Linked DNA regions of Homo sapiens. The protein of the gene in region 2 purifies or fractionates together with the protein of the main gene of each other region. This does not show direct contact. Each region holds a gene or a part of one and is shown on either strand. Other genes may lie near its edges.

What was found.
Region 1: the proteins of ZC3H8 (region 2) and LARP7 purify together in Homo sapiens (affinity purification with mass spectrometry; 6 studies listed by BioGRID and IntAct, with this or other methods). This does not show direct contact.
Region 3: the proteins of ZC3H8 (region 2) and ZCRB1 purify together in Homo sapiens (affinity purification with mass spectrometry; 4 studies listed by BioGRID and IntAct, with this or other methods). This does not show direct contact.
Region 4: the proteins of ZC3H8 (region 2) and C8orf33 purify together in Homo sapiens (affinity purification with mass spectrometry; 3 studies listed by BioGRID and IntAct, with this or other methods). This does not show direct contact.

The regions. Positions count from the first base shown.
Region 1 is NC_000004.12:112,632,212-112,640,330, reverse strand, and holds the start of LARP7 (la-related protein 7), read right to left. Parts: upstream 3,189-8,119; 5' UTR 3,092-3,188; intron 2,830-3,091; exon of another isoform or gene 2,728-2,829; intron 2,688-2,727; exon of another isoform or gene 2,544-2,687; intron 1,714-2,543; exon of another isoform or gene 1,658-1,713; intron 1-1,657. Other genes in the region: 5'-3' DNA helicase ZGRF1, read left to right, coding at 7,155-7,175. UniProt on the Homo sapiens protein: RNA-binding protein that specifically binds distinct small nuclear RNA (snRNAs) and regulates their processing and function.
Region 2 is NC_000002.12:112,231,043-112,238,757, forward strand, and holds part of ZC3H8 (zinc finger CCCH domain-containing protein 8), read right to left. Parts: intron 7,487-7,715; coding exon 7,273-7,486; intron 5,654-7,272; coding exon 5,520-5,653; intron 3,195-5,519; coding exon 3,078-3,194; intron 2,330-3,077; coding exon 2,218-2,329; intron 906-2,217; coding exon 796-905; intron 1-795.
Region 3 is NC_000012.12:42,315,380-42,323,094, reverse strand, and holds part of ZCRB1 (zinc finger CCHC-type and RNA-binding motif-containing protein 1), read left to right. Parts: intron 1-648; coding exon 649-677; intron 678-5,196; coding exon 5,197-5,308; intron 5,309-5,647; coding exon 5,648-5,755; intron 5,756-7,715.
Region 4 is NC_000008.11:145,047,671-145,055,722, reverse strand, and holds the start of C8orf33 (UPF0488 protein C8orf33), read right to left. Parts: upstream 3,257-8,052; 5' UTR 3,232-3,256; coding exon 3,226-3,231; intron 3,138-3,225; coding exon 2,826-3,137; intron 2,662-2,825; coding exon 2,577-2,661; intron 2,427-2,576; coding exon 2,280-2,426; intron 1,706-2,279; coding exon 1,566-1,705; 3' UTR 1-1,565.

The DNA.
Region 1 (8,119 bases), on a different chromosome or scaffold from region 2:
GTTGAATAAAAAAACAAATTTAAAAGTACCTGTAAAGTGTTAAGCATTTCAAATTCTTTGTAAGGTTGTGGGATGTAAATAAAATACAAATAGGCCAGGTGCAGTGGTTCACGCCTATAATCCCAGCACTTTGGGAGGCCGAGCCAGGTGTATCACTTGAGGTCAGAAGTTCAAGACCAGCCTGGCCAACAAAGTGAAACCCAGTCTCTACTAAAAATAACAAAATTATCTGGGTGTGGTGGCCCATGCCTGTAATGCCAGCTACTCGGGAGGCTGAGGCAGGAGAATCGCTTGAACCCAGGAGGCAGAGGTTGCAGTGATTCGAGATCGTACCACTGCACTCCAGTCTGGGAGACAGATTCAGTCTCCATCTCAAAAACGAACAAACACAAACGTAGGCTATAATTATCAATTATTCTATAATTGATAATTATAATTCTATAATTGATAATCTATAATTATAAATTATTGATAATTATCCAATTATCAATAATTCTATCCAATTATTCTATCCAATCTCTTGTTAAATCCTATCAGTTTGACTTTTGAAATGGCTCTCATCTCCATCCAGTGTTTTCTACAACTACTGCTACAACTGTCACTAGAATATGCCAATAGTTTATAAACTGTTCTGTAAGTCACCCATTCTCAACAGGAGCCTATGTATAACCCATCTAAAACACAGACCTGGTTTTGTGATGCTTCTGTCAAAACTTGCAACATTAGAAATTCCTTAGCACCTTCCCGTAACATAATATGCAGTTTATGAAAACACTGTTTTAAAAAAAAAAAGTAACACTTGGCCAGGCGCGGTGGCTCACGCTTGTAATCCCAGCACTTTGGGAGGCCAAGGCGGGCGGATCACGAGGTCAGGAGATGGAGACCATCCTGGCTAACAAGGTGAGACCACGTCTCTACTAAAAATACAAAAAAAGAAAAAAGAAAAGAAAAAAATTAGCCGGGCATGGTGGCAGGCGCCTGTAGTCTCAGCTACTTGGGAGGCTGAGGCAGGAGAAAGGTGTGAATCCGGGAGGCGGAGCTTGCAGCGAGCCGAGATCGTGCCACTGCACTCCAACCTGGGCGGCAGGGCAAGACTCCGTCTCAAAAAAAAAAAAAAAAAAAGTAACATTTAACTGGCTTTAAATGAAGAATAAAAGTTATTGGGTAACAATACCAGTAACTTTATATACACTTTTGTAAATCCTCACAATCCCACTAGGTAGCAGTTTCTTCCATCTTAACACAAAAACTCAAAAAGGTTTAAGTGACTTGGCCAAAGCTAGCTAAGTAAGTTGTCCCAGGTATGTTTGATCCCACATTGTCTACCTTTTGGTAGAATTTCCCGCAATTTATCACCACGGACTCTATGTTCTGACTCAGGAATTCTTAATCTGAAGTCCATGCAACTTTGGCTGGACAAGAATTCTAGTGGGCTCCATTAAATTGTAAATGATACATTTTAAAGATAAGGTAAAATCAAGACTCTTGTACAAATATAAAATGAATACACGGTAAAGATTTAAGCACAGTCATGGGTTGCTTAACGACAAGGACACATTCTGAGAAATGCACAGTCAGGTGAGTAAGTACATCATTGAGTATGTAGTTATTCTATGATGTATTCACACAAACCTAGGTACTATTGCCTATTACTCACCTATAATCTTATGGGACCACTGTCATACATGCGGTCTGTCGGTATGTGGTGCTTGACTGTAAATAAGGGAACCAGTTAAGTGCTAAAAACCAGTTCAAAGGAGAATTTAAAAAGCAGGTACACAGGCAATCAGGAACGTTGAAATGAATATTAATAAATACTGCTCAGGACAATAATTAATTGCATCTTTACTGGACAAACCTAATTTCCATGTTGCTGTAGCGAGTTACAGGGTTGAAAAATAGTTCAAAGACCACGAAAGACATAGATAACTTGGAAGAGTGAGTCAGACAAGACACCAAGTCATTTGTGTGTGTTTGCTATTTAAAAGTATTTCGTAATTTCTCCTGAGGAAATTATATGAAAAATGTTTGTTTGGAGACGCAGCCTCTCTCAGTGGCCCAGGCTGCAGTGCAGTGGCGCGATCCCGGCTCACTGTAATCTCTGCTTCCCGAGTTCAAGCGATTCTCCCAACCAAGCCTCTTGAGTAGCTGGGACTACAGGTGTGCACCACCACTCCCCGCTAATTTTTGTGTTTTTAGTAGAGACGAGATTTTGCCATATTGGCCAGGCTGGTCTCGAACTCCTGACCTCAAGTGATCCTCCCGCGTCGGCCTCCCAAAGTGCTGGGATTACAGGCGTGAGCCACCGTGCCCAGCCTCGCAAAATGTTTTAATAGGTACATGCACGTTTTCCTGAGAAGCTAATCCATATAATTAAGTTTTCAAAAGAAGTGTGCCACAACAGGTTAAGAATCATTGTTCTGGTCACTGCTTACAACTCAAGTCCCTCAACACGTAGTGGCCTGTGTGTTCTGCTTTGTCTGAATCTTCTCGTCTAAATTTCCTTATTAAATTTTCAAGGCCCAGGTTAAATGGCATCTTACTCTTTGAGATCTTCCACCACCCTGTGTCCTATCATTTGTTTTCTCTTAAGTTTCTTTGCAAACGCACTCTGCACACCATATCTAGCAAGTGTTAGTTCCCTTCCGTAACTGGATTTTTTACTCTTTGAGGACGATGGCAGAGTCCTGCAAAAGAAGATGATAATTTTAGAATATAAATCCTCACGTTCGCTATCTTCTGGCAGCCACAGCTCAGCTCCAATCTGCGAAATACGGCACTCTCTTTATTGACTACTGCTTCTCTCGGCACCCGTACTTCCGCAAGGACGCCGTCATAGGCCGGGCGCGCCCCAAACCTCCCCACGCCGGGCCCCTATGCGCCCTTACTGTCTGAAAACGGGAACTACAAGTGCTGCCGAAGACTTTTGCGCGTGCGCATAGATAACTAGGCCAAGGAACTGATGGGTGTGCAGGACGGGGGGGCGGGGTAAGAAGGACGATAGATGATAGAGTGGACCGCAAGAAAAAGGACGGAGAGTTAATTAGACTTCGCCCAAGCTGTGCGACCCTATAGGCCGCTTGTAACTTACTCCGTTCGACTCCCAAAATACAGGGTCAAGTACTGCGGCCTTCGGACATTTCCGTCTCCGGATCCTGATAGTCTCGGTTACTTTCGCGTCATAGGATGAGCGACAACGTTTTCCGGTCCCAATTGAGAAAGACGGGCCCGGAGGCAGTGCGCGCTCCACCTACGTCACAGGCGAGGTGGTTCCAGGAGGGCTGGGCATCGGAGAGCGCGGCCGGCTGAGAGACTCGAAGCCAAGGAAGAATTTGATTGGCGATTTGAAAGCGGCGGTTTTTGGCTTAGGCGGAGGTGGGCGGGCCAAGTTTTGGGTCCTCATCTGGTGAGGTCCCGCGTTAATGACGTCACGTTGTTTCGCGGGAGAAATTCGAAAGTGGATTTTGTGCAATTTGACAGGTGAGGTGAAGTGTTTCTCGGGATTTCCTAGGAATGACTTGAGCGATTTGGGGCGAAGGGACGAAAGACTCTGCTCCTTAAGAAGAGAACCGGGAAGGATGCTGTTTGGAACCAGGATTGGGGTGGTCGCAGTCACAGCTACTCGGACTGCTTGTAGTAAGTGGTGCCTCTTCACCGTTTTTCCCAGGCCTTGCTTTGCAATTTCGAGTAGGTATGAGGACCAAAGAGGGCTTTGCTGTTTGTATTTAGGACTGAGAAAGGATCAAGTCTCCATTGTCATTTGGTGACAGGATTATGGTTCTTAGAATCTTGGCAAATGAGATGTGGGTTTCCTTTGTTTATTTGGACTGGATGGTTTGTTAACAATGTTGAGTTCATGATTCCAAAACTTTGTTATCCGAACTATTTAGAGGTTCAGGTTTAGGTTCAAAAAATACTCCTTGTTTAAAAAAAAAGGAAAAATATCTAGTATTTAAATGAATAATGGCTCATACTTTACTGAGAACACCGAGTTTTATGTATATATATTGCGTCCGTACATATAGTAGCACAATGTATATGTATGTATATGTGTGTATGTACGTATATCTGTGTGTATGTATGTATGTATATAATTATCACAGAGCATCTGGGGTCTTTAAAAACTTATTTGGAGATTAATCTTTCACCTATTAGAAGTCGGTCAACAGGTGAATTGTCTGGTAGACGTGGACAGATGAACACTTGGAAAAAACTCTTTGCATCTCACTTAAATATATATGATGCTGTTGTCTAAAATAATTTTTTCTGATTAATACTAAGATAAGAAAGGGTGTTGACTTTCAATGAATAAGTATTAGAGCTCTTCTAAATTTTAAAAGATCCAGTTAGCTTTTTTTTTTTAGGTTTTCTCCTATAATCGAATTTAACCATCCTTTAAGAGTTTCAGTCTTCTTAGTTCTTTTTAAACTGTACATTCCAGAAGTAATATCTCAATTTAGGAAAATAATGGAGAATTTATCTTGCAATTGTGAAATAGCATATAAGTTATCCTAAACTAGTAAATACTGGGTTCCTAATCTGTAAATTGTAATAATGCTTATTCTTCAGGATTATGAGACTGATAAATACTGTATGTAAAGTATCTCGTCCAATTCCTGCCTGATACATAGTATGTAATCAATAAATATATATAATTACACACGATAATCATATAATTGTATATTACATAATACAGTAATATAGTTATATATTATATAATTACATAATAATTATAATGTATATAATTAACAATATAATGTATATAATGTTTATAATATAGCACTTTGGGAGGCTGGAAGGATTGCTTGAGCCCAGGAGTTTGAGGCCACAGCGAGCTATGATTGCAACACTGCACTCCAGCCTAGGTGACAGAGTGAGACCCTGTCTCTGTAAAAGAAAAAGAAAAGTTAAAAAGCCAACAGAAACAAAACCTCCAAATAAAGCATTTAACAGTTTCTAGCATATGGTAGCACTGAATAAATGGTAGCTATTAAACAGATCTGATATTAATAATTGCCACATGCCCAGCACTGTGTCTGTACCATGTATTCTCATCTATGTATACAGCATATCTAGCCCAGGAGTGTTTTTCTCGATCTCTCTTTTATCTTCTTGGCATTCTTAGGCATCAGCAATTTATGTACGCCGGAGGGGAGGGAGATAGGATGTGGAAGTTGTATTTCTTTTTTTTTTTTTTTTTTGAGATGGAGTCTCGCTCTGTCGCCCAGGCTGGAGTGCAGTGGCGTGATCTCTGCTCACTGCAACCTCCGCCTCCCGGGTTCAAGCAATTCTCCTGCCTCAGCCTCCTGAGTAGCTGGGACTACAGGCCTGTGCCACCATGCCCAGCTAATTTTTGTATTTTTAGTAGAGACGGGGTTTCACCATGTTGGTCAGGCTGGTCTCGAGCGCCTGACCTCATGATCCACCCGCCATGGCCTCCCAGAGTGCTGGGATTACAGGCGTGAGTCACCACACCCGGCCAGGAGTTATATTTCTGAAAGGCAGTCCTTCTGTAGGTTTGGTTTCTGTCCTGTGACCTGTGTCACGAAGCAAGTATGCATATCTCATTTGCATACCCCTTACCTATTCTTTCTCCAGATCACCTTGATTAGTCAAGGGAAGATGCCAGTCACTTTCTTGCACTTCACCGCCCCCGCCTCGCCCTTTTATTTTTTTTTTTTGAGACAGTTTTGCTCTTGTCGCCCAGGCTGGAGTGCAGTGGCGTGATCTCGGCTCACTGCAGCCTCTGCCTCCTGGGTTCAAGTGATTCTCCTGCCTCAGCCTCCCAAGTAGCTGGGATTATAGGCACGCACCACCACACCTGGCTAATTTTTGTATTTTTAGTAGAGACAGGGGTTTCACCATGTTGGCCAGGCTGGTCTCGAACTCCTGACCTCAGGTGATCCACCTGTCTCGGCCTCCCAAAGTGCTGGGATCACAGGCCTGCAATTCTTGTTTGGGAAGACCTTCACTGGCCTTCCCTTGACTAAGGGTTATTTCAGCTTACAGCTTAGACTTTACTTCCTTGAAGAAGCCTTGTTTGATGATCCACACCAAGCTGGGTGCCCCTGCTGTGCTTATTCCTGCCTTATTTTATTAAAATTACTGTTTATCACCCCGCCATACTGAAATTCCTTCAGATGGAGGATAGAGTTTCCATTTAAATACTTTAGCATAATATCTGGCACAATAGTAAGTACTGAATAAATATATGTAACTTATAAATAATATGTAAGTGGCATATTTTATATGTCTAAAAGAGGAACTGAAATCACAATTACAGCTTTATTGAATCCTTCTAGGTCTTTTAGATCTGTATTCTCAAACTTGAGTGTCCATCAGCATCACTTGGAGGGCTTCTTAAAACACAGACTGCTGGGCCCCCAACCCCAGACTTTCTGACTTAATAGGTCATTTCTTACTAGTTCCCAGATGATACTGTTGGTCCAGGGGTCACATCTTGAGAACCACCTTAGGGGAAAAAAAAGAAAGTATGTTTCTTTGGCATTTCTGTTTACTTCTTCAGGGATCACCATCAGTGATTTTAGATTTCCAAATTTGCCCACAAAAACAGTTTTATCCAATAGCATAACAACTACAGTAACTGTTGCAACAGTGTTGGAAAGATTTTTCCTTGTAGAGGTACTATGTAATTGGTCCTAGATACTGTGGTATATTGATGCTAAGAAGTGAAAGGAAAAATTTAAAACACAAGGGGGCCATCTTGTGGTAACCGTAGCAATTCAGAAAACTTTAAAAATTGAATTTGCGCTATAGGGAACCAAACATGTGGAGGACAAATTCGTGTTTTCTGATACATATTATGCATCTGGAAAAATGCAGACTACAAGTTAATTTATGTATTTTACTTAGTTTTTTCTTTACTTATGAAAAAATGCTTGTTTCACAGCATGGTATCACTTTTACTGTGTCCTCAGTGATAGATAATTACACCTCTGTTTCCCTTGGTAGTTAGGTAATCTTGGAACTCCTTGATTCATGTCTGTGGTTGGGAGTTTATTGAGAAAAATTATATTTGATATTTTTTAAAAATCAGGGTTGAAATTTTATGTCATTTTTAATTTTAGGTGGTATAAATAGTTGAATATTTCCTATTTTCTGGACCCAGCTGGTTTATAACTTCAGAAGAAATAATGGAAAGCCAAGAATTTATTGTAAGTTTTACCATTTTTCACAGTTTGGTGAAATTCCCTTCCTCTGTCTCTTTCTTTTAAAGGCGTTTCACAAACATCTTGCTGTGTTGCCAGATTTAGCAAAAACAAAACAAAAAACAGGCTACTCAGTTAAATTTGAATTTCAAATAAACAATGCATACCTTTTTTAGCATTAGGATCCCAAATATTGCACAGTATTTTATCTGGTAACCCTATCTGTTACCTACTATTCATATTTGTTACACAAAATCATCACTTTTCAGCCTTTTGGCTAAGATCAAGTATTAGACAAAGTCCTTTGTAACATAATCTTTGAAAGTGTGAGACCGGGAAACAATTTCTTTCTCTTGAAGAACTGGCATCCGTCTTCTGTATAGATCAGCAGTTCTCACACTATTTGGTCTCGGGACTCTTTAACACTTAGAAAATTATTGACCCCAAATAACTTGTGTATATAGGGTCTTACGTCTATTGATGTTTTTCATATTAGAAGTTAAAGCAGAAATGTAAAAAGTATTTATGATTTGGCTTAATGGAAGACAACTGGATTCTCATATTTGTTTCTTCTACATTCAGATTGCAATTGAATCTTACAATATTGCATATACATAATCCTGGGAAACTTCATTCTGCACCCCTGAAGGAGTGAGGATGAAAAGACAGCATCATGAAAATAGTTTTGACCTCACAGATACCTGTAAAGGTCTTGGAGACCTCCAGGAGTCTCTGGACCAAACTTTGAGAACTGCACAGATTATTAGTACTGTGTAATCCAGTAATTTTTTTCCCTTCCAATTGATGACTAGGGAGCTCAAATTACTTTCAATGCTCATTTATCTTTTTTGTTTCTTCCTTGGATTTCTCCTCTCCTTTCTTCCTTCTCCTGCCATTTCCTCCCCTATTCCCTCCCTCTCCTTCTCTCTCTCCCTTCCTTCCCTTATTTA
Region 2 (7,715 bases):
CAAATTCATCCTAATAATCATCTAATATTATTTACTACTACTACAGGAACTGAAAAACTTATTTCATATATATCACTTTTCCATATCTATTTCACACAAATAAACAACTAAATATTTGGTACAACTTCTAATTCCACATTAACCATTCATATTTTACAACCTAAAAATATCTATAAACAAGCACCTTTGACTTTGTAATATTTACATATGCTCAAGGGAACATTTTGCCAGAAGATCGTATGGTTGGCTTCAAAAGAATCTTTTAAATTTTCATGTATACTTAGATTAAATTTTTAAGAGACTAGCTCCAACTAACATGAGAAATGAAAGAATACAAATGACTGTAACTTTTCAATAACCTTTTCTCACAGACTGAAAGAATATCTGAAGAAAACATTTTGAAATTACTACTTAACTATTATTTGATGTAATTCTAAAATGTTTATAAACCCGTAACTTGTAACTTTCCTTCCAAGAATCTTTATAACAGGAGTACTATTTTTCTTATTTGATTTGCTTTGTTTAGCTTAGCTTAGCTATTAAAATGGCTAATTATACTGAAGATTTTACATCTTTCCAACTTAAATCAGCAATGAATATACATCTTCCTTTCAGCTACAAGGAAACATATACAAATGAAAAATATTTAAACTGAATTCTTAAGTTATTAGTCCTAATATATCCCATATGCTAACCTAAGAGGCACTCTCCTTAATTATCTTCAAATTCTCATCCTTAGTTCAAACATATTCCTTAAAAAAGAAAAAACAAAAGATTATTAAAAATTATACTTACTTTAGCCAACAATTCTTGTGTTTCAGGAGTCAGTGGAGCATGAGAAAACTTGCAGTATTCTCCCTGATAACATTTTGTTCCTGTATGGTAAAACTTACAAGGATATTCATGTAACCCAAGTGTTAAGGAAGAGAACAATTTTAATCCAATTGAAATAATGTTATTAACTTAATGACTTTATTTTTCCTAAATAAAGACCTCTGTGGCCGGGCGAGGTGGCTCATGCCTGTAGGAGGCGGAGGTGGGCAGATCACTTGAGGCCAGGAGTTCAAGACCAACCTAGCCAACATGGCGAAACCTCGCCTTTACTAAAAATCCAAAAAAATTAGCTGGGCATGGTGGCGCAGGCATGCCTGTAATCCCAGCTACTCAGGAGGCTGAGGCACCAAAATCATTTGAACCTGGGAGGCGGAGGTTGCAGCGAACCAAGATTGTCCACTGCACTCCAGCCTGGGCAACAGAGCAAGATAATGTCTCAAAAAAAAAAAAAAAAAAAAGACCTTTCCTACTAGCAGAAACTGGATTTCTCTATTTAAAGTATGAGATAATAAACTAACTGGAATACATTTAAAAATCTAATTTTAGAAGGACTACATACGTAAATCAAGTTTCTTGGCTATGACAGGACATTTTTTTCCTTCATATCCATTCTTATAATAGAGTACAGGCATGTTTCATATATGAAAGGGGTATATATTTTAAATACCTTGATAAATGTGATCATTTTTAAAGCATTCCTTTGGGGGTGGAGGAATCAAAGTCAACAACGACATATCTTACAAATCTGGATCCTTTGTACATTAGACTTGTTTACAACAGAATAAATTTATATAACTTCAATATTTTCTAGGAAAACAATCCTCAAATTACAATTTGATACTCCTTATATTGAATGCCTGAAGAAAAAAATTTTTTTGTGATGACTAAAGGTGCTATTAACCTAAAATGTTTATGTTCCATGTTTTTACAACTTGTCTGTGCCATTTGCACTGAAGAGCTAAGGCTATTCTGCAAATTAAGGGATGATTAATTTCTACACAGTACAGAATACACAGAAAACAGGTACTCCCAAATTATGTAATCCTTGCCTTTTTATGAAGTAGCTTATTTGAATATAGATTCAATTAATCAGTGTCACAGTAGAAATTGTGATAAGTCTTTCTGGGATTTGAAGAGGTCTCATGGACCCTCTATACCACCCAGGTTGAGCAGAAAGAATCATCATTTGAGAGATTTTCTAAAGAATCCCTCTTTTCTTGCTTATGAAAAAATCCACGTACAATTTAATCACTTTGATACTAAGTTGGGCTTGGATAATATCATTTTGGTATACCTAAAACACTGGTTTCATTAAAAATTTTGCACATTTAAAATGTTCATGTAAATATTTATAAAGTCACCATATCTTGTGATAAAGGATATTATGCAAATACAGACAGTTTTCACCTCTGGTACAATATCCTTGTACATAAAACTTACACATTTCCTTTTTCTTTTCTATCTCTGCATCATGATCAAATTTACACTGGTCTCCCTAGGCCAAAAGAAGGAGCAAGGAAAAGCCATTATTTCTCATAGTCAAGTCATTATGATTTAATTCCTACTAAACTTTAAATAAGCAAATGATTCCAGAAAGAACCAAAGTCTTAGAGGTAGCACATTCTAACTGTTAATAAATTATAACCACATCACATATATCTGCTTAAAATCTTCTTAAGTCCCAAACATTTTTAAACATAAAGCATTTTTTAAAATTATCAGTCGCTCACGCCTGTAATCCCAGCACTTTGGAGGCCGAGGTGCGCGGATCATGAGGTCAGGAGATCGAGACCATCCTGGCTAACACGGTGAAACCTCGTCCCTACTAACAATACAAAAAAAATTAGCTGGGTGTGGTGGCTAGCGTCTGTAGTCCCAGCTACTTGGGAGGCTGAGGCAGGAGAATGGCATGAACCCAGGAGGCGGAGCTTGCAGTGAGCCGAGAATGCGCCACTGCACTCCAGCCCAGGCGACACAGTGAGACACCATCTCAAAAAAAATAAATAAATACATAAATAAAAATTATCTGACTCAGGTGATCCACCCACGTCGGCCTCCCAAACTGCTGGGATTACAGGCCTGGCTACTTTTTTAAACATAAAAGAATACTTCACTAAAATTTTCTAACTGATTTTTTTCCAGAATGAAACAGCTTTAAAAACCTAAAGGTATGAATTAAAAGAGTATCAAACAGAAAGAGCAGTTTTACATTTTAGTAGATTTTTGCTTACACATTTTTATACCTTAATACATTTCCTTTCAAGAAAATATTTACAAATTTGTTTTCCCTTGCGTTCCACTGTATGTTGGTTGATGAATGCCTGACTCAAATGCTGCTGCTTCTCTTTAGGTTTACCATCCTTTAAAAACAAAAACAAAAAAACTAAATGTAAGAAACAGAAAATTAAATATTTTATTCTGTTGCACAAAATTATTTAAACCAACTTCAGAGCCTTAAAGGTGACTCTTCTAAATTGGCCTTCATATGTAAAATTTGGATTTCTGTACACCAGGTTAAAAATGAATGTTTTGTCAGTTTCAACAGCATTCCATCATTGAATATTAATGTTTGTATTGATTTGAATATTTTATGATACATTGCCTTTATTTTGTAAAAATGAATGAAAAAAATTTTTTAAATGGGCCAGACACAGTGGCTCACGCCTGTAATCCCAGCACTTTGGGAGGCTGAGGCGGGTGGACCACTTGAGGTCAGGAGTTCAAGACCAGCCTGGCCAACACAGTGAAACCTCATCTCTACTAAAATACAAAAATTAGCTGGGAGTGGTGGTGTGCGCCTGTAAGCCCAGCTACTCTAGAGGCTGAGGCAGGAGAATCGCTTGAACCCAGGAGGCAGAGGTTGCAGTGAGCCAAGATTGCACCACTGTACTCCAGCCTGGGCAATAGAACGAGACTCCATCTCAGGGAGAAAAAAAAAAAAATTAAATGAAAGTGATAGTATTTATGATTAAAAACCGAAGTCTAAGAACGAAGATCTTTAGAGTGGTAGAGACAAAGTTGGAAATCAGAGTGAACCAAAAGCAGTGGAATCTATAGTTTCAATGAGATGCTCACTGGGTGTGAGTTGAGCACACTTATCAGCTCAAATTAACACACGCAACTAGAAATACACCGTCAAAGATGGTGATAAAGGTATAAAAGGAGATTTTTACATTAAAAAAAGGAAGAAAATCTTATAATACATTTAAGCTCTTCAGAAACATAAGGTACTTTTTACATGTTAACTTATGCTACAGATTACAGCTTCTGTATACCAAATTTTTGCATACAGTTTTAGGAATACAGTATGTACAAACAAGGGAGCTGACTGTACAGTCATTTATAATAATGTCAAATTTCCACTTAGCACCATCAAATTTATGTCTTATAAATATCTGCCAGTTTAAATCTTGTTTTATTTGGTAACATTATTAAATTCTATATATATGTTTAGAATTTGTTCCTTGTGTAGAAGGGCTGTCAGCTTTGGCTGAATAATCATTTGAGCCATGTAAATCAAATCAAAGAGAATATTGACAGGGGGTTGAGAAACAAAATCCTAGTCCTGGCTTGGCCCTGTGTGACTATGGGTAATTACCTGAACCACAGGGCTTCAGATTCCTCATTCATAAAATATGGAGGCAGGGGACAGACTGTATATAAATGTTTTTCAATCTAGAATATTTGGCATTTCTAATATTTTACCACCCCTTACCCTTGTCCCATATGACCAAGCCTAATAAAAAAAGTTGCCATCCAGTTAAAAGCCCTCAGAAAAGTGGAATCCAGAAGAGGTACTTATTATTCTACCCTGCTTACATCTACAGACCAAGGAAAGGGAACTTCTAAAAACCAAAATCAAAATACAGGAAGGTGGGGAGTGGGGAGATTCAGTAAGGCCAATGCTCAGAAATATTGATTTTTAATTTCCAGAGGGAGCCAGGATGAGGGACTTTAGTAGTAAAAAATTTGTAAGACTCAGTGGCCTTTGAAATGCCTCATGACTATTTGATCTTCTCTGGGCTTCCCATTTTTCCCGAGTCATTGATAGTATAACACTAAAAAAAAAAAAAAAAAAAATCAAGGAGTGACCAGGCACAGTGGCTCATGCCTGTAATCCCAGCACTTAGGGAGGTGGTGGGTGGTGGGAGCCGAGGCAGGTGGATCACCTGAGGTCAGGAGTTCAAGACCATCCTGGCCAACATGGCGAAACCCTGTCTCTACTAAAAATACAAAAATTAGCCGGGCATGGTGGCGGGCGCCTGTAGTCCCAGCTACTCAGGAGGCTGAGGCAGAAGAATCACTTGAACCCGAGAGGCGGAGCTTGCAGTGAGCCGAGATCGCACCAGCCTGGGTTACAAGGCGAGACTCTGTCTCAAAAAAATATATGTATAACAATAATAAAAAAAATCAAGGAGCTTGTGTGCATATATTCAGGAACAACAGTGAGAACGCTAAGGCTTAAAAGTGGTGCTGGCAGCTAATCAGTGAGAAAAAGAAAGCTGCAATAAGAAGGAAGAACACAGAGAACCCAGTGACAGTAAAAGGACATCTTCATCCGAAAACCGATTCTGTGGGATGCTTCCACCTCTCCATATCACATAGCACTTCTTGTCACTGAAGTATAAGATCAAGTCCAAAAGCATGCAGGGGTCAGGTATTCCTAGAAGCATATATTCCAATACCTCTTCCTGTGAGCCGCTGTTCCTCAGCAAAGCATTTGATCCTTTGTTTCCAGGGCCAGGCCATTTTCGCTTCATTTTCTTCTGTTTGCCATTCTTGTGACCAGCTTTAAGATTTTTATTTTTTTGTTTAGCAGCTAAAAACAAAAAATTAATTTAAAAAATGACATAAAGTTACAATAGCAGTTTACTTTTAAGAAGTACGGGGCCAGGTGCAGTGGCTCATGTCTGTAATCCCAGCTCTTTGGGAGGCTGAGGCAGGAGGACTGCTCAAAGCTAGGAGTTCAAGGCCAGCCTAAGTGTTCAAGGCCAGCCTAGGCAGCCTAGAGATCTTGTCTCTACAAAAACATAGCTGGGTGTGGTGGTGCACGCCTGTAGTCCAGCTACTCTGGGACTATAGGCTAAGGCAGGAGGATTGCTTGAGCCAAGGTGTTCAAGGTTACAGTGAGCTATGACTGCACTGCTGCACTCCAGCCTGGGCAACAGAGTGAGAACCTGTCGCAAAACAAATGGAAAAAAGAAGTATGATTTACAATAATTGAGGAAAGTTCTCTAAGGCTCAATAAGTGAAAACTGGCATGATAGTGATCAGTTTTCCTAGAAGCTCTGGGACTAAGGGACCAAAAAGAGAATTATGATAATACATCCTGGATTCCCCATTCATTGTTTTTAAAAATATATAAGGTATTGTCAAGAAAAAAGCAAGATAATAAAATCAGTCTTATAAGTTCTAAGGCAGATCCTTTTGAAGTGTTCAGAGTATGATGGATCTAATTAGGAACTGCAACAGTAAAACTTTAAGTGTTTACAATGACCTCATAAATTACTGTCAGATTTTTCACTGAAAACATTTTAAATAGATCAAGTTTTTATTTATTTATCTATCCGTGCACGCATTTATCCATCTATCCTGCAATGGCATAATCATAGTCTACTGGAGCCTCGAACTCCTGGGCTCAAGCAATACAGATCCATTTTAAGTAAAGAAAACAACAAAAAAATGACAGCATTAAAATTTTAATTTTTTTTTTTTTTTGAGACAGAGTCTCGCTCTGTTGTCCAGGTTGGAGTGCACTGTGTGATCTCGGCTCACTGCAACCTCTGCCTCCTAGGCTCAAGTGATTCTCGTGCCTCAGCCTCCAGGGTAGCTGGGATTACAGGCATGTGCCACCATACCCTGATACTTTTTTTTATTTTTAGGTTTCACCATGTTGGCCAGGCTGGTCTCGAACTCCTGACCTCAAGTGATCCACCAGCCTCGGCCTTCCAAAGTGCTGGGATTACAGGCGTGAGCCACCATGCCTGGCCAAAAATTTCATTTATAATTGCCATTTGCCCTCATATTTATGGCTAAATCTCATTTTAGTAATCTAGAAGAATATATTTCTGAGTTACAGTCTGACATACAACCATTCCAGTCAATCCTCTTTAAATGACAGCAATACAAGCAGGCATATCCTATCCTTCACACATGCAGAGGCCAGGGCTTTAGCATTCTCCCTTTAGAAATAGTCAGGGCCTTTGATAACCCACCTCCATCCTCCAGCTCCCTCTACAAACTAAGCATTTAATGCACCAAGTGGCCAGGTCTCAGATGGGGTCTCTGGCCATGCAAGCTCATGTCTGGTATAAATATTCATGAAAACCATAGTCTTATCATAAGATAAAGTGCAAAGAAAAATCCTCTGTCCGTATATGGACAACTGTGACTGCTTCTCTAGATAAACTTTAAATGATAAAATAGTTTGACTCTTACCCTGTGGGGTATCTTTTACTCCTTCTTTCTTTGTAGATTCTTCAGGTTGAGCAGCATTTGCCATTTCTCTGGCTTGTATGTACTGTTGAAGCTCTTTGGCAAAATTATCTTCTGATTCCTGACTGCAGATATCATTATCACTATATACATCATAGTCCTTACTTCTTGATTTTCTATGCAGCGAACTTTTTGGTGATATTGCAGAGTGTCTAAACTAAGTAAAAATTAAAACTTCAATTTTAAAAACCTAGCATGATTCAAAACAATCTGGCTATACAGAAGAAACAAGATTGGCTATAAACTGGTCATTGTTGAAGGTGGGTAATAGGTACATGGGATTCATATACTATTCTCTCCACTCATATATTTGAAAATTTCCAGAATTAAAAAAAAGAAAAAATTTCCAGAATTAAAAACAAACTAACAAACCACTATGACATATC
Region 3 (7,715 bases), on a different chromosome or scaffold from region 2:
ATGGGTAATGAGCTGGAACTGTAGAAATAAATGAGATTGCATAGGATAAAGTAAAAGTAACAGAAGAGAGAGCCAAGTATAAAGTTCCACCAACATGTTAATGGTGGGCAGAGGAAGAAGACTGATAGAAATGGATTTTTCATTATAAAAGCTTATTTTATGAGGTTTTGTTTTGTTTTTTAAATAAAGCAGTCTAAGGATTTGCCTTCTCAAACAGGGATTGCTTAATAGGAATAACAAGGTAGTGGTGAGGGTAGAATTGGAAAAGTGCTGCTCCATAAGATTGACATTTGAAGCACAGGTGTATCTGGCACTATGATGGAGTTGATAGTTGCCATGGGTATACCTCAGGAACACAGCAGCTGTCCAGTATGTATGCCTTAGATCTACCACATGTGTAGAGTGAGTTTTTTTCTCTGTATTTACTCCATTGTCAAATTTAGAAACAGACAGATACATGTGACTCCAACAACAGTAAGTATATTATTCTAGTAACCAAAAAAAACTTTTTCCTAGGGCCTGTCTTATAGACTGAAGGCTGAAATTATTCATAAACTGTAACAAAGAATTTGGTCAATGTCTGCAACCTAAAAATTTGATGTTTTATGATTTTAAAATAAATTGTAAATATTTGGTCTTTTGTTTCAGATATTTTCCAAGTATGGCAAAGTTGTAAAGTAAGTATTCACATTAAATTTTGTAACTTCATTTAAAAGTTTATCTGAATTTGCTTCTACATTTTTTTAATGACAGATTTTTAAAAATAAAACATGCTTGATATAATAAAGAAAATACTATTAACATTTTTATGACAATTTAGTTGGTTTTCCATGTACATAAACATGTAGACAATTTTTCTTAAAGACTATTACATACATACAATTTTCTTTTCTTTTTTAATTTGACATACCATAAATGTCTTTCCATGTGCTATAAAGATACATCCTCATAGCTAATGGTAAACAAATATTTTGGTTACTAGGAAGTGTGTTATCAAGTATACTATAAGTAACCTACTTTCAAATAAATAGGTGGTTTTTTGTTTTGTTTTTTTTCATATAAATAGTGTAAAAACAAATATTTCAGTGCATCTGACTTGCAGGATGCTATGAGTCTTTTAAATAGAAAACATATTATCTTCCTTCAGAGATAGCTTGGAGATCGTTGGAAAGACTAGAAACATGCAAAAATGGTAATGGATGATAACAGGGCTGAGGGTTAGGAACAATAAAAAGAACTTGAACTTCTCGTATTTCACTGTTTTAAATCAAGCAACTATATTATGGGGCAAAAAAGTAACAGGATACTGTCATCCTAACTTTCTTGTAACCAATATAGATTCTGATATAAATTTAAAATCCCAAGAATTTTGAGCATATTTATCTTGGCTAATTTCTTCTAGTGTTCCATAAATGGATATTAAACAGTTGAAGCTCTTTTGCATCTTGAAATTACTAACTTCTTTTACAGTTACTTTGCTATTAAAAAAGCATTATCAAAAATGCTTCTGTGTAAATTTTTGGGTGTTCAGATTTTAAAAAGTCATTGTCATCAGTCCAAACACTGGTAATGATGATGGTATGTGATACTTAAATGAGCACATATATATGCCAGGCATTGTTCTAATCTCTTTATGTGTATTATTTAATTCTCACAACTACCCTTTAAGGTAGGTACTATTATCATCTCAGTATTATACATGATGAAACTGAAGCACACAGTAAACCTAAGGTCATCTTGCTAGCTAGTGGTGGAGAAAATATTTGAATCCAACAGTGAGATTTCAGAGCCCACTCCCTTTTACCTTTTTTCTTTTTCCACTTTGTTAGAATCTCTGAATGGATCTCCATATAAATATATAGTCCTAAACCATGAAACTGCAATGGAGTTAAAGACACGAGAGTTATAAGCACCTAGAAACAGGGAAGACTATCTAGTCTAGAGAGCCAGGGAAGGCTTACCTAGGTCAGTATTTTTTGAGTGGAAACCTAAAGGATGAGTAAGAGTTAAGTAGGCAAAAATAAGGGAGGAATATTTCAGGTAGAGGGAATAGCTTGTGCAAAGGCCCTGTGGCAAGAGAAAATAAAGTGAGATCAAGAAATAGAAAGAAGGCCAATGTGACTGGAGATGAGTGAGTAAGGGGGAGAAAGCACAAGGTGGCTCCAGAGATGGAAGCAGGTTCCTCATCTTACTTCTTGGTCAGGTTACCAAGGTATTTGGTTTTCATTCTAAGAATATCAGGAATCATTTAAGAATTTTAAGTGAGGGGTGACATGATTTAAATTTTTTAAAGTTTATTCTGGCTTAATGTAGAAATTAGATTGGAGGGGAACAAAAGCAAATGCAGCTGGGTGCAGTGGCACACACCTGTAATCCCAGCACTTTGGGAAGCCGATGTGGGAGGATCACTTGAAAGGTCATGAGTTCAAGACCAGCCTGGCCAACATGGAGAAACCCCATCTCTACAAAAAATACAAAAAGTAGCCGGCCCTGGTGGTACACACCTGTAATCCCAGCTGCTTGGGAGGCGAGGCATGAGAATTACTTGAACCCAGGAGGCGGATGGAGGTGGAGGTTGCAGTGAACCAAGATCACACCACTGCACTGCAGCCTGGACAGAGCAAGACCCCATCGCAAAAAAAAGAAAAAAGCAAATGCAGTGAGACCAGTCTGAATCTAAAACTGTAGCCCAGGGGAGAAATGTGTACTAAAATAGTACAGGTGGAGATATAGAGACTGGTCAGATTTGAGAGGTGGTCAGATTTCAGAGATCATTATGAAATAAAGTGGGTAATAGTGATGTGTATAGGAAGCAAAGTGGGTACTATTTAGTGATATGCTTACTTTGCGTATAAGGACTTTGTGAACAAGAAGGAGGTGTTATGGATGACATTCAGGTTTCCCAAAATAGTGTATGCTTCATATTATGTGCTTAAATAAGTACATCATATACCTTATATTAGGAAATGGTGCTATTATCTACCTCTTTTCCCTTGCCAGAAACATGGGAGTCACAGTAGATTTGTCCTTTTAAATCTCTGATGTAATTTTTTTTTTCTGTTACCACAGAAGGTATCTCTATCAAAGTATTGTATGATAGTTGGTTTGTTGGTCTGTCTCTACCACTAAACTGTAAGATTTCTCCTGAGGGTAAAAACTACTGTTAGTGCTTAGCACATGGGCTTGAGGCTAACAGAGTGACTGAGTGACCGAATGAATGAACACACACAATGTACTCTTTTAGAAACTACTTTTCCCATTTTTTTGGTCTGTCTTTCCCATTGAATATAAAGGTATATCTATCAATCAACATATTGAGCTGGGCACATATGGATTACAGAGACAGCCTTAAAGGAGTTTACATTAAAATAGATGAGATGAGGCATTGTTTATGAATAACACAATTCAGCAGAGACTAGCATAACGGAGGAGAAATTATATCCAGTTGAAGCTATTAGAAACTGACACATTGACCTGAACCCCGAAAGAATGAGGAAAATTTTAATGAGCAGTGATTCAGAGGTGGAAGAAGATAGAAGCTGTATGAACAAAGGCACAAATTTGGGGAAATACAGGCCATGCTACTGGAGCATTGAGTGGTTTCTTTTGGGTAGACTTCATAGTGTGTGCGTGGGAAGGAGCAGTGAAAGATGAAGGAGATGGGAGCCAAATCATCAAGGATACTGACAGTGGGACAAAGAATAGGCAACTTACAGAACCAAAGATTTTTGAACAAAGGAATGGTGTGATTTTATTTATTCCTTAAGTAGAAGACTACTTAAGGATATGAGAAAATTATAAGAGAAAAAATTACCATAAAGGAACCAATAAGAATAGACTGTTAAAACAGTAATGCCCCTATGGACAAGAAAAAAGCAGTGGAATTGGAAAAGAGGCAACAGATGAGAGATCATTAATTGAGGATGATGTAGAAAGCCAATACTTCTTTTGAAATACTACTTTAAAAAAAAAGACTGATAACTTTCACAAACATTACGAAAAATTCCAAAACATAAAGCAACTACCTTATTCAATATTTCTGTCAAATTGGTGATTTTTCCAACTCCAGCATTCCCTCTACATTCACCAGTCATCCCTTGGCATTCTGTTGTAAGCAAGAGCCTTCCCTCCCATCTCCTCCACTTATTTATTGGTCTTTTATCAGTAAGAATTATAAATTCCTACCTTCTCTGTGGCTTATAATTTATTACTGTAATGAATTATTTTGATGCTCAAATTGTCCTTGATTTGGCCAGTGGGAGCTCCTTCCAGCTGGCTGCTGTATTCTTGGCCCCATCATTCATTCATTCATTCCTCCCTCCGTCTCTCTCTCTCTCACTCGCTCACGCACTCTTGCACTCTCTTACCTTCTGGCATAAGATGTTCCAAGCTCCTCTTGTACCTGCCCTGCTGTAGCCTTGGAATCCGCTATTTCTCCAAAGAGCCCTGTTGAACATTGTTTTTAAACTATGTTAAATGACATACGGTGGGCAAGGGCCTCCATGACTAGGGATGTGGATGGGGCAGGAGAAAGAGCAGGCTCTGTGCTCTCATAACTCTCCTTGTCACTCAGGTACACCCTGGTGGGTGGTATGGCTAAAAACCACAGAACTGGAGATTCTTTTTCCCTAAAGATCGGGGTCTCATTATGTTGCCCAGGCTGTTCTCAAACTCCCATGCTCAAGCATCCTCCTGCCTCTGCCTCCCAAGTAGCTGGAACTACAGGTGCGCACCACCACAACCAGCTCTGGAGGGTTTTTTTCCTTATTTTTCTGAAGATTCTTTAAAAGAATATTAAGAATATACTTTGATTCTAACACTTAGAAAAATAAATAAATCATTTTACTTTTTGTGTAAAGTATACCTTTATTTTGTTTTGTTTTGCAAGGTGAGGGAGTTAGCATGGAAGAGGGATTGTGGTTACACTTTAAGATTTCATTGTCTCTGTAATTTCTTTACTTCACCCTTCAATCTCTGATTAACTCCTAATCATAGCTGTGCTCACTTCTGTTAAATCAGTATCACCCTTTCCCATTTCCATTCTTGATATCCCTTGACTTTGAAGAGATAGCTGATTTTTCAAATGTATTAATTTATCTTATAAATTTTTAGCCCTTTTTAAAATGAATTTTTCAAGTATTAGTATCTGTTTTATTTATTGCTGCCTCATTTTTAACTCTTTGTTTATGCTTTAAGGGTTACCATCATGAAAGATAAAGATACCAGGAAGAGTAAAGGGGTTGCATTTATTTTATTTTTGGATAAAGACTCTGCACAAAACTGTACCAGGGCAATAAACAACAAACAGGTAAGCTATTCATCTCCATCAAGGTTTTTAGCCCCAAAGCCTTTATGCTCATCCAGGCCAAAAATGTGGGGATATAGTGGATCATCAGGTCTAGCAGATATCAGTAGATTCTTAAGATATCTAACTTATAGAAAGAAAAGAGGTCAAACTACTGGGTTCTCAAAACATTGGTGGAATCTCAGGAATAAGAATACTACAGAATAGAATTTATCACACCTAAGTGACAATTGCTAAAAAATCCAAAATAAACTGGAATTGAAGATTTGAGAAAATTGATTAAATAATTAATTTTAGGTTTCAGTGAAATACATTCTACATTTACATTTTTCTCTTGTTTAGTTATTTGGTAGAGTGATAAAAGCAAGCATTGCTATTGACAATGGAAGAGCAGCTGAGTTCATCCGAAGGCGAAACTACTTTGATAAATCTAAGTGTTATGAATGTGGGGTAAGTAAACCTAAAACTTAATGGAACTTTCCATAGTTTAAGATACTTTTCACATCAGTCTTTTATTTTTGCTCACCAAAACTTCTGACTGGCTAAACCAGATTATGAAAATGCTTTATTTTTTAATATTTATTTTTTTGAGATAGGGTTTTCCTCTGTCACCCAGTGCAGTGATGCAGTCACAACTCACTGCAGCCTCTACCTCCCGGGCCCAACTGATCCTCCCACCACAGTGTCTGAGTAGCTGGGACCACAGGCATGCACCATCACACCCTGGTTAATTTTTAAATTTTTTTGTAGAGGCAGGGTCTTCCTATGTTGCCCAGGCCAATCTCAAACTCCTGGGCTCAAGCAGTCCTCCCACCTCAGCCTCCCAAAGTGCTAGAGTTACAGGTGTTAGCCATGGTGCCTGGCCTAGTTGTTAGGGTCTCTAAACTCATCAAAGTAAATTCAATTGAAATGCAATGTGTAAAGATAACCTGAGTTGGGTAATACAAAGTGGTATTTTCTCTAGTTCCTAAATCTTTGAAAATCACTAGTTTTAAAAGTGTTAGACTGATTACTTATGTCACTGTCTTGCAAGATTTTCGTAACTCATAAATTTTTGTTAATAGGATATTGCCTGTTTCTTTAACAGTTTTTAAGTCACAGTTCAATAGCAACATTATCATGTGACTTTATCCTCTATGGGATATTGTGTTTTGAAGTTTTTTATTTTTTCCTATTAGTATTGCTAGTGTTTTGTAACTGAACTATCCCCACATTTTCTTCTTTGGTTCTCTTCATGATCTGTCATTATCCATTTAAAGTTTTGGTGATGAAGAGAGAGAGACAGCCATAGAATAATTTTGTATAAGGTCTGTATTGGTACCAAGAGAATTTTAGTCTGGTTCTCACAGGTGTAAGTTTGTAAAATGACCATAAAAATACTTAAGAAACAGGCCGGGCACAGTGGCTCACGCCTGTAATCCTAGCATTTTGGGATGCTGAGGTGGACGGATCACTTGAGGTCTGGAGTTCAAAAGCAGACTGACCAACATAGTGAAACTGAGTTTCTACTAAAAATACAAAAAAAAAATTAGCCAGGCATGGTGGCAGGTGCCTGTAATCCCAGCTACTTGGAAGGCTGAGGCAGGAGACTCGCTTGAACCCAGGAGGTGGAGGTTGCAGTGAGCCGAGATTACTCCACTGCACTCCAGCCTGGGCAACAGAGGGAGACTCTGTCTCAAAAATAAAAATAAACATAAAATAAAATACTTAAAAAACAGAGTCCAGAGGTAGTAATGGGGAACTGGGGAGAGAATCACTGAAAGATACCGTCCTGGCTACAAAATCACATGGAAGATGCAAGGAAATGGCTTGAGGTCCTCTACCCCACTGTCACTCCCCATACCCCCGACAAAAAAGATAACTAAATAAACAGACTGATGGATGGATGAATAGAAAGAGTGAGCAAGCAGTTGCTTGGATACATACTGATTCTGTCAATTCCTATGATTCTAAAACCTCTTAAGTAAACACTTTAGAAACTTTTCCAAAGTTTTGAGTTTTGTAAAAGAAAGAAAGGGAGGGAGGGAAGGTAGTTATATTCAGATTAGTATATATCTTCATATTCACAGTAAATATTAAATTATCTGAGAAATCCTAGATGAATCTGTTAATCGGTTCCTTTTGGTTTATGGATCCATAGAGTTGTTATATTTTTTACATTTTTATATTTAATTTCCCTCCCTCCAAAAAAAACTTTTTTATATTGACCTAGCCTGGTTTTTCTCAAGTTATTTCATTAAATCCTTTTTTAGTATGGGATATGTTAATTTTTTTTTGCTATAATATTATTCCAAAACAGTTTCAGATATGTGTCTCTATTTTCTCAGCAGCTCATTAACAGTAAGTAACCTCTTTAAGTTGGGCTATGTCCTAGGTATACAAAGTGCACAGTCTGTCTGCTCTGTCAAAT
Region 4 (8,052 bases), on a different chromosome or scaffold from region 2:
CCAGGTATACAGGATGGAACATGAAAGCGGACTAGGAGCGTGACCACTGAAGCACAGCATCACAGGGAGACAGGCCTCTGGATAACTGCGGGCGGGCCTGACTGATGTCAGGCCCTCCACAAGAGGTGGAGGAGTAGTCTTCTCTAAACTCCCCCGGGGAAAGGGAGGCTCCTTTTCCCAGTCTGCTAAGTAGTGGGTGTTTTTCCTTGACACTGATGCTACTGCTAGACCATGGTCCACTTTGCAACAGGCATCTTCCCAGACACTGGTGTTACTGCTAGACCAAGCCCTCTGGTGGCCCTGTCCGGGCATAAGAGAAGGCTCACACTCTTGTCTTCTGGCCACTTCGCACTATGTCCCCTCGGCTCCTATCTCTGTATGGCCTGGTTTTTCCTAGGTTATGATTGTAGAGTGAGGATTATTATAATATTGGAATAAAGAGTAATTGCTATAAACTAATGATTAATGATACTCACATATAATCATGTCTATGATCTAGATCTAGTATAACTCTTCTTATTTTATATATTTTATTATACTGGAACAGCTCGTGCCCTCAGTCTCTTTCCTCGGCACCTGGGTGGCTTGCCACCCACATAGGCAGTCATGCCATTCACTGAAAAGCAGAAGCCAAAGGAAAACCGGAGCCTAATCAAGTGTTTTAAACACATCAGGTTTGAAATGCCTATGAAGCACCCAAGTGGAAATGCTGAGTAGGCAGCTGGGCTCCAGGTATCAATCTAGTCTGGGAACTGAGTTTGGAAGATACCAGCAAACATCAAGCCACCAATGAGGATTAGGTCACCTGGAGATTCCCAATTCCATGGAACAGAGGGCCTGAGACTGAATGGCCAACATTTAGACAAGAAGTCTGCCAAGGCTCAATCCAGGTCTCAGGCCAGAACTGTTAGCGCAAGAAGCTCCTTGCTCCTAAGAACAGAGCCTGGCCTGGTAGGTGCCATGCTGGTTCCCTGAGGATGATACCTGCTCAGGAATGAAGGCAACATGCACAAAGGTACCAGGTGAGGGACTGGACCCAGGGATACCACACCCCTGCATCTTCTGTACTTCCTCTAACATAGGTGGTCAGCATACTCTTTCACTCCTTATCCAATTTTATCAAAAATAGAGATTAGGGCAATATGACATAACAGCATTAAGCACTAAACCATTTGACAGGGATTCCTTTCAAAAGTGAAAACCAGTGTACGATTATACAGCTTCTCCACTAATCTTTGTTACCAACAGCCACTTAATCTAATCCTAAAGACTGAGTACAATATTCCTTCTACAATACTTTGAACACTCACTTCAATTTATTGCATATTTTCTAAATGCACCTCTCTCTCTCTTCTGAAAGAGAGAACATTTCATCAGAAAACGAACGGGGTCTTTTGCCTATCTGATGGTCTCACACCTTCACAACAGCTACAAATCCTTGGACCAGCCAGGGACAGACCAACTCCAGGGTTCTCTGACAACAGAAGTCCTGGAAAGGCTCTGCACTCAAAACAAACCCCTACACCACCCCAAGGGAGGGGGATTGTTTCAGGTTCGGGGAGACGCTAAAAGAAATTGAACCTAAACTCTTCATCAGGCATGTCCAGAGTGGCTTTGGCTCTCCATATAGAGCGAGGCCTGCAGACCCTTTGGCTCTTCTTTCTGGTGGCTCCATCTACAGGTTGCACCTGGGCTGAATAAGCAGCTGTCGGGGAGAGAAGCAGCGTATGTCAGAACTGAATAATAACAATTAACATTACCTGTACAGTTATGTTTGCCCATACAATTCTAACCACCTTGCATAAATTAACTGATTAATTCCTCAAATTTGTAAGGTTGATATTACTATCATCCCCCACTTAGAGAGGTTCAGTAGTTTGCAAAAGGTGTTAGTACTACTATGTGGTAGATCCAGGATTTGAACCTAGCTGATCTGGCCCCAGGAATTGCACTCAAACTGTTATGGGATATGGCTTCATTGCTAGTAGAGAAAGCCAAGACACAAAGACATGAGGCAGCTTTCCCCAACCCAGGAGCAGGACCAACATAGGACCATGCTCTTTCCCACTCCTCCCAGGGCCTCCCCGCTGCTTCCCAGGTTCAGTCCTAGGAAGAGGAAAGAGAGGTCCACGCTTTCTGTTTCCCTGCTCCCTCAGGCTTCCCTGAGCCCATCTCCTTCCCCCACCAGGCTTGTTGCTCTGGGCCTTCTTCCTTTCACCCCCTAGACACTTCCTCCTTAAGTTAGGCCTTCCTGAATCAACCAGTGGCTAGCTCCTCACCAGCTCTGAGAGCCCGCAGGGCCTCACGCCATTCGGCTTCCATCTGAGCCCTATAGTCTCCAAACAAGGAGTGCATCAGCTGCCTCTTCCGGGGCAAGGGCGTTCTTTTGCTGCGCAGGGTTCGGATTGCTCCAATAGCCTGCTCTTCTGCGAATAAAAATAAAGGACTAGTGAACACCTCTATTACTGACCTCCTACCACCCCGCCGCAAAGCCAACAACTCCATACTCTGCCAGCACCTGCAGGCCAGGCAGTGCCACTGTTCACATCCCCCAGCTCTACAGAAGGGTCCCTTACTCTGTTTCGGGGTGGGTTTCTGCCTCTTGAGGCCCAGCTCCAGTTGCTCCACACACCAAGCCAATTCCTGGGCCAACTGTTGTGCCTGTGATGGATTTGGGGAAGTGGCTGTGAGAGGGCACTGGAAAACCATAGCCGCCGGCCCCATCCCATGCCCCTCCCCGCCTTAACTCCGCGGACCCCAGATCACACGTGCCCGTGGATTCGCACCCGTGGATTCCACCCTTCCCGACCGAAGCCCGCCCTTGCCTGGGCCTCAGCGCTTAGGGGAACTTCTTCTGGGGCGAGTTTCTCTGAGGCCTTCTCGCCTCCATTTGCCACAGAGGCCCTGTTCCGCGTTTTCTTCTTATTCTTTTGTTTTTTCGACGCTGTGCCGCCTTCATCGCCCAACGGGTGCGCTCTGGAGTCAGCGTTACTGCACGTAGGTTGCTCTGGGCAGAGACAGACAGTGGAAGGATTCCGGGCGCTGGAAACTGGGCCGGGAAGCCGGGCTCCGCGGGACGCGCAGGGAGTACCCGGGCCTGGGGCCGCCGCTGCCTCCCCAGCAAGATGTCCCAGGGCCTGGAGAAAGGGGGGTAGCACGAGGGTCACCGAGAGCCGCCAACAATGCAAGGCCCAGCCACCCGCGCGTCTTCTCCACACCGCTCACCGCCATGCGCCGCAGTCGCCACCGGAACTACGCGGGGCGCAGAGTCCGACGCCGAATTCCGTCCTTCAAGAACGCGCCTGCGACTCTAGGTTCCGCGGGGCGCGGGCGGGGCGCGGGCGGGGCGCGGGCGGGGCGCGGGCGGGGCGCGGGCGGGGCGCGGGCGGGGCGCGGGCGGGGCGCGGGCGGGGCGCGGGCGGGGCGCGGGCGGGGCGGGGCGCGGGCGGGGCGCGGGCGGGGCGGGGAGCGGGCGGGGCGGGGCGCGGCTGGGGTGGGATGAAGCTGGGACGGGGCGAAGCTGGGACGCGCCTGGGACGAAGCTGAGATGGGGCTGGGGCGGGGCCTGGGGGTTCGGGGAAGAGGCTGAAGAGGGGTCTCGGAAGAACCCTTGTGAGCGAGTGATCGCGGGCGCTGACTACGTGCCCGGCACCTTTCCGGATAAAAGTTCAAAGCTCTCCACGAGGGTGTGTCTTCTCAAGGCTCACCTTTTGGTGGGGAGGGAAAAGCAAGTAAACAGCACGTGAGCAGCTACGGCGCAAGAGGGTGGTCGGCAAAGACCCTGGGAAATGGGGAAGAGCGAGGGTCAGGGCGCGGTCGTTTGAGAGGCCGGCGTCTCGGGACGTGGAGGCTCGGGTGAGGTCTGAGAGTTGGGAGGGCCCCCGTCATGGGCTTACTTCCGTTCTAACGCAGTGGGAAGTCGCTGCAAGATGTAAATCTGAAGAGTGGCATAATCGTAGACGTATGTTCTGCAGATCTCTCTGCTCTTGTGTAACGAGTGGGGCACATGGGGTGGAGGGACGTGGAGGGGTTTCAGAAGCAGACGCGGGAAGAGCCTTGGACAGGATATGGACGTGAGGGAGGGTGGCGGTATGGGGGAGAGGGAGAGCCCCATCCCACCACCTCTCTTCCCCTGGATGCTTCCCTCCCACTATACCTTGCTAGAGACCTGGGGTCACACACAACACTCGACCCCCGCCGATGGAGGCATGACAACCGAGAGGAATTGCGTAGGGGTTGAGGTGAGGCTGAGTAGGGTTTCAGGGGGGCAACGGGCTATGCCAGGAGGGTGGGTTGTGTTGCTTGAGAAGGTAAGAGTCCGAGATGTCTGATGATTCCTTTCGGGGACACAGGAGTGGAAAGCGGTGTTTCCTGAGACGGTGGGGTGGGAAGTGTTAGCTGCCTGGTCTGCAAGGTCTCGAAGGGTTACAGTTTGGTCATCACTGATAGTTATTTACTGCAGTGTGATACATTACTCCCAAAATTCGGCGGATTGGCCGGGCGCGGTGACTCACGCCTGTAATCCCAACACTTTGGGAGGCCGATGCGGGCGGATCACGAGGTTAGGAGTTTGAGACCATCCTGGCTAACATAGTGAAACCCCGTCTCTACTAAAAAATACCAAAAAATTAGCCGGGCATAGTGGCGGGCACTTGTAGTCCCAGCTACTCGGGAGGCTGAGGCAGGAGAATGGCATGAACCCGGGAGGTGGAGCTTGCAGTGAGCCAAGATCGCACCGCTGCACTACAGCCTGGGTGACAGAGCGAGACTCCATCTAAAAAAAAAAAAAAAAAAAAAACACGCAGAATTTAAACGGGACACGCAGTAAAGGAGATGCGGCATACAGTAATTTATTACAAAGGAGAAAGAATATTTGGAAAGTTAAGTGAACAATAGACAGTACACCCTGAGAGAGAGAGAGAGGATTGAGGGCCAGCTGCTCATAAGGTTGGGGCAGCAAAGACGCATGAGGGAGACTCCCTTTATGGGGGTCTTACATGATTATTCATAAGGAATTGGGAAGAGGTGCTACTAGTGAGTATGTTCTGGATGGTCCTCTGAGTGCACATGTGCGGTAGCTGTATGTTCTTACATGCTTGTTCATACAATGCTTCTTGTCATACAATGCTTGTTCTACATGCTGGTATATGATTGTTCGTACATGTCACATGTCTTATTAGCATCTTAAACCTCCAACCAGGGCTCTGTTTTTTACTATTATAATGAGCGAAAGGTCAGTCTGAGGACAGGTAAAATCAAAATGTACATGCTCTTTGCAGGGGAAATTCTCTACTGAAGATAGTTTTGCTTGAAAGAGCTTAACCACAATGTGAAGGCAGAGGCTTATTGTGCTGATTGCACAGTCACAACAGTTGCTGCATCCCGAGGACATGGTTACTTCCTTGACTACCTATCCTGCCTCACTTTCAATGCTCTGATTTTATCCATTACCTTCCTGACTCATATGCTATTTTTGTCTTGACTTCATTTCTATCTTTGTTTTTAAATCTGCCATATTAGACTTAATTCTATTTACAGTCAGTGTTTTCAAATATACAACTTTTGTTTTTCTTAGAGTCCATGTCTCACTCTGTCACCTAGGTTGTCCTGGGCTCAACTGATCCTCCCTCCTGCCTCAGCCTCCCAAGTAGCTGGGACCACAGGCATGCACCATCATACCAGCTAATTTTGTAATTTTTTGTAGAGATGGGGTCTCACCAGGATGCCCAGGCTGGTCTTGAACTCCTGGGCTCAAGCAATCTTCCCACCTCAGCCTCCCATGCCTGGCATCATTCCTTATATCTCAGTTCTGATATCATTTCTTTAAATGTACATCCTTTTAAAGCTCCTTTAATGAAATCTGTTATGGTGTTTTGGGTTTTGCTCATCTGAAAATGCCTATTTTTATTCTAATTCCTGGAGGATAGTTTGGATAGAAACACAATTTGAGGTTAACAGTTATTGTCTCTCAGAATTTTGAAAATGAGCCATCTCTGTAGACCTCTCCCACCTCTGGGACCCCACTCAACCCTGTATTCTTACCTCTATTACTGTACTGATGTGGTTATCTGTCTCTACATACCTTTGTATCCCAACTAGACTGAGAGATATGAGGAAAAGAGGCCAAGTGTTTCTGCATCTCTGATTTGCCATTGTCAGGCACACTACCAGGCACATAGGGGCTGCACAGTAATTGTAGGTTGATGTAATCATGAATAACCTTGGATTTGAACTGTTGCCTTTCCAGTGCTATATTTTCTATGGTTCCTCTTGTGGCAGGAAACATGAGTCTTCAGAAAAGATTTTTCCATAGTTAGCAAATCACACCAAAATATTTATTAAGGGGCTGAATGAATAAGGCAATGGGATGGGTACGGTGAAAGAACAAGAGAAGTACCCTGACCTTGAAGGACACAGTTTAAGAAAACAGATATCCAGGCTGGGCACAGTGGCTCCGCATATAATCCCAGCACTTTGAGAGGCCAAGGCAGGCAGATTGCCTGAGCCCAGGAGTTTGAGACCAGCCTGGGCAACATGGTCTCTACAAAAAATTTAAAAAATTAGCCGGTTGTGGTCCCAGCTACTTGGGAGGCTGAGGCAGGAGGATTGCTTTGGGCAGCGGTGGGAAGGGGGATGGTGCAGGGGCGGATGTTGCAGTGAGCCAAAATTCTACGACCACCCTCCAGCCTGGGTGACAGAGAAAGACCTAGTCTCAAAAAAAAAAAAGAAAAAAGAAAGAAAGAAAACATATATCTAAATATGTTTATATATACTGTGTCTCCATTAACATAATTACAAGTTTGGATCACATTTTACTTTTATTTTTTTCTCATTTTTTTCTATGATAAAGCCTGATTTTTTAAACTTAAAATTAGCCTGAAGACTTTGTCACAGTATTTATGTTCATAAAGTTTATTGATAGAGTGGATTTTCTGCTACTGAACAGGCTCTAAACTATTAAAGACTACATACCCTGATACTTAATAAGTTTTGACACATAATATAAGGTTTTTGCACATGCATGAGATTCATAGGCTTTGTCTCTTCTTTGATTCTTTTTGATCCAGAAAGTGGTATGAATTCTGTATGGTCTTCCCATATTCACTGTACCCATAGGGTTTCTCTTTACCTGGAACTGCCTTAGGTTCTGCAGGGGCTATGAATCTACAAAAAAACTTTCCTACATTTACTGTAGTTATCAGATTTCATTCCAATGTGAATCTGCTGATGTATAACAAGGGTTGGATTCTGACCAAACACCTTCCCACATTCATTACACTCCTGTAATTTCTCTCTGTGATGAATATCCTGATGTCAAATAAGGTACAAATTTGGATGGGAATTTTTGCCAAATTCCTTGCATTCATATGGCTTATTTCCTGTGTGGATCCTATGATGTGAAATAAGGTGTGACCTGTAACTAAAGGCTCTTCCACATTCATTTACATTCATATGGTTTCTCTCAGCATGAACTCTGACAGAATAAGATTTAAACTCTGGATGAAAGTTTTCCCACATTCATTACATCCATTAGGTTTCACTCCAGTGTTAATTATCTGATTTTTAGCAAGTGCTGAGCTCCAATTGAAGGCTTTCCACATTGATTGCATTCACGGGCCTTTTCTCTACTGTGAATTATCTGCTGCTGAATAAGGTGTGATTTTGAATGGAAAGCTCTTCCACAGTAATTACATACTTATGACTTCTTTCCACTGAATTTTTTGATGCTGAATTAGGTGTGAGCTCTGTGCAAAGGTTTTCTCATACTTTCTGTATTCATGAGATATTAAATCTTTGGTACTTAATACATTTCTGGATAAAAGCTTTCCCACATTCATAATATTCATAAGGTTTCTCTCCAGTAAGAACTTTTATTTATTTATTTTTTGACACAGTATTACTCTGTAGCACAGGATGGAGTGCAGTGGCACAATCTCAGCTCACTGCAGCCTCCTCCCTCTGAGGTCAAGTGATTCTGCTGCCTCAGCCTCCTGAGTAGCTGGGATTACAGGCACCCACCACCAACCCTGGCCGATTTTTGTATTTTTAGTA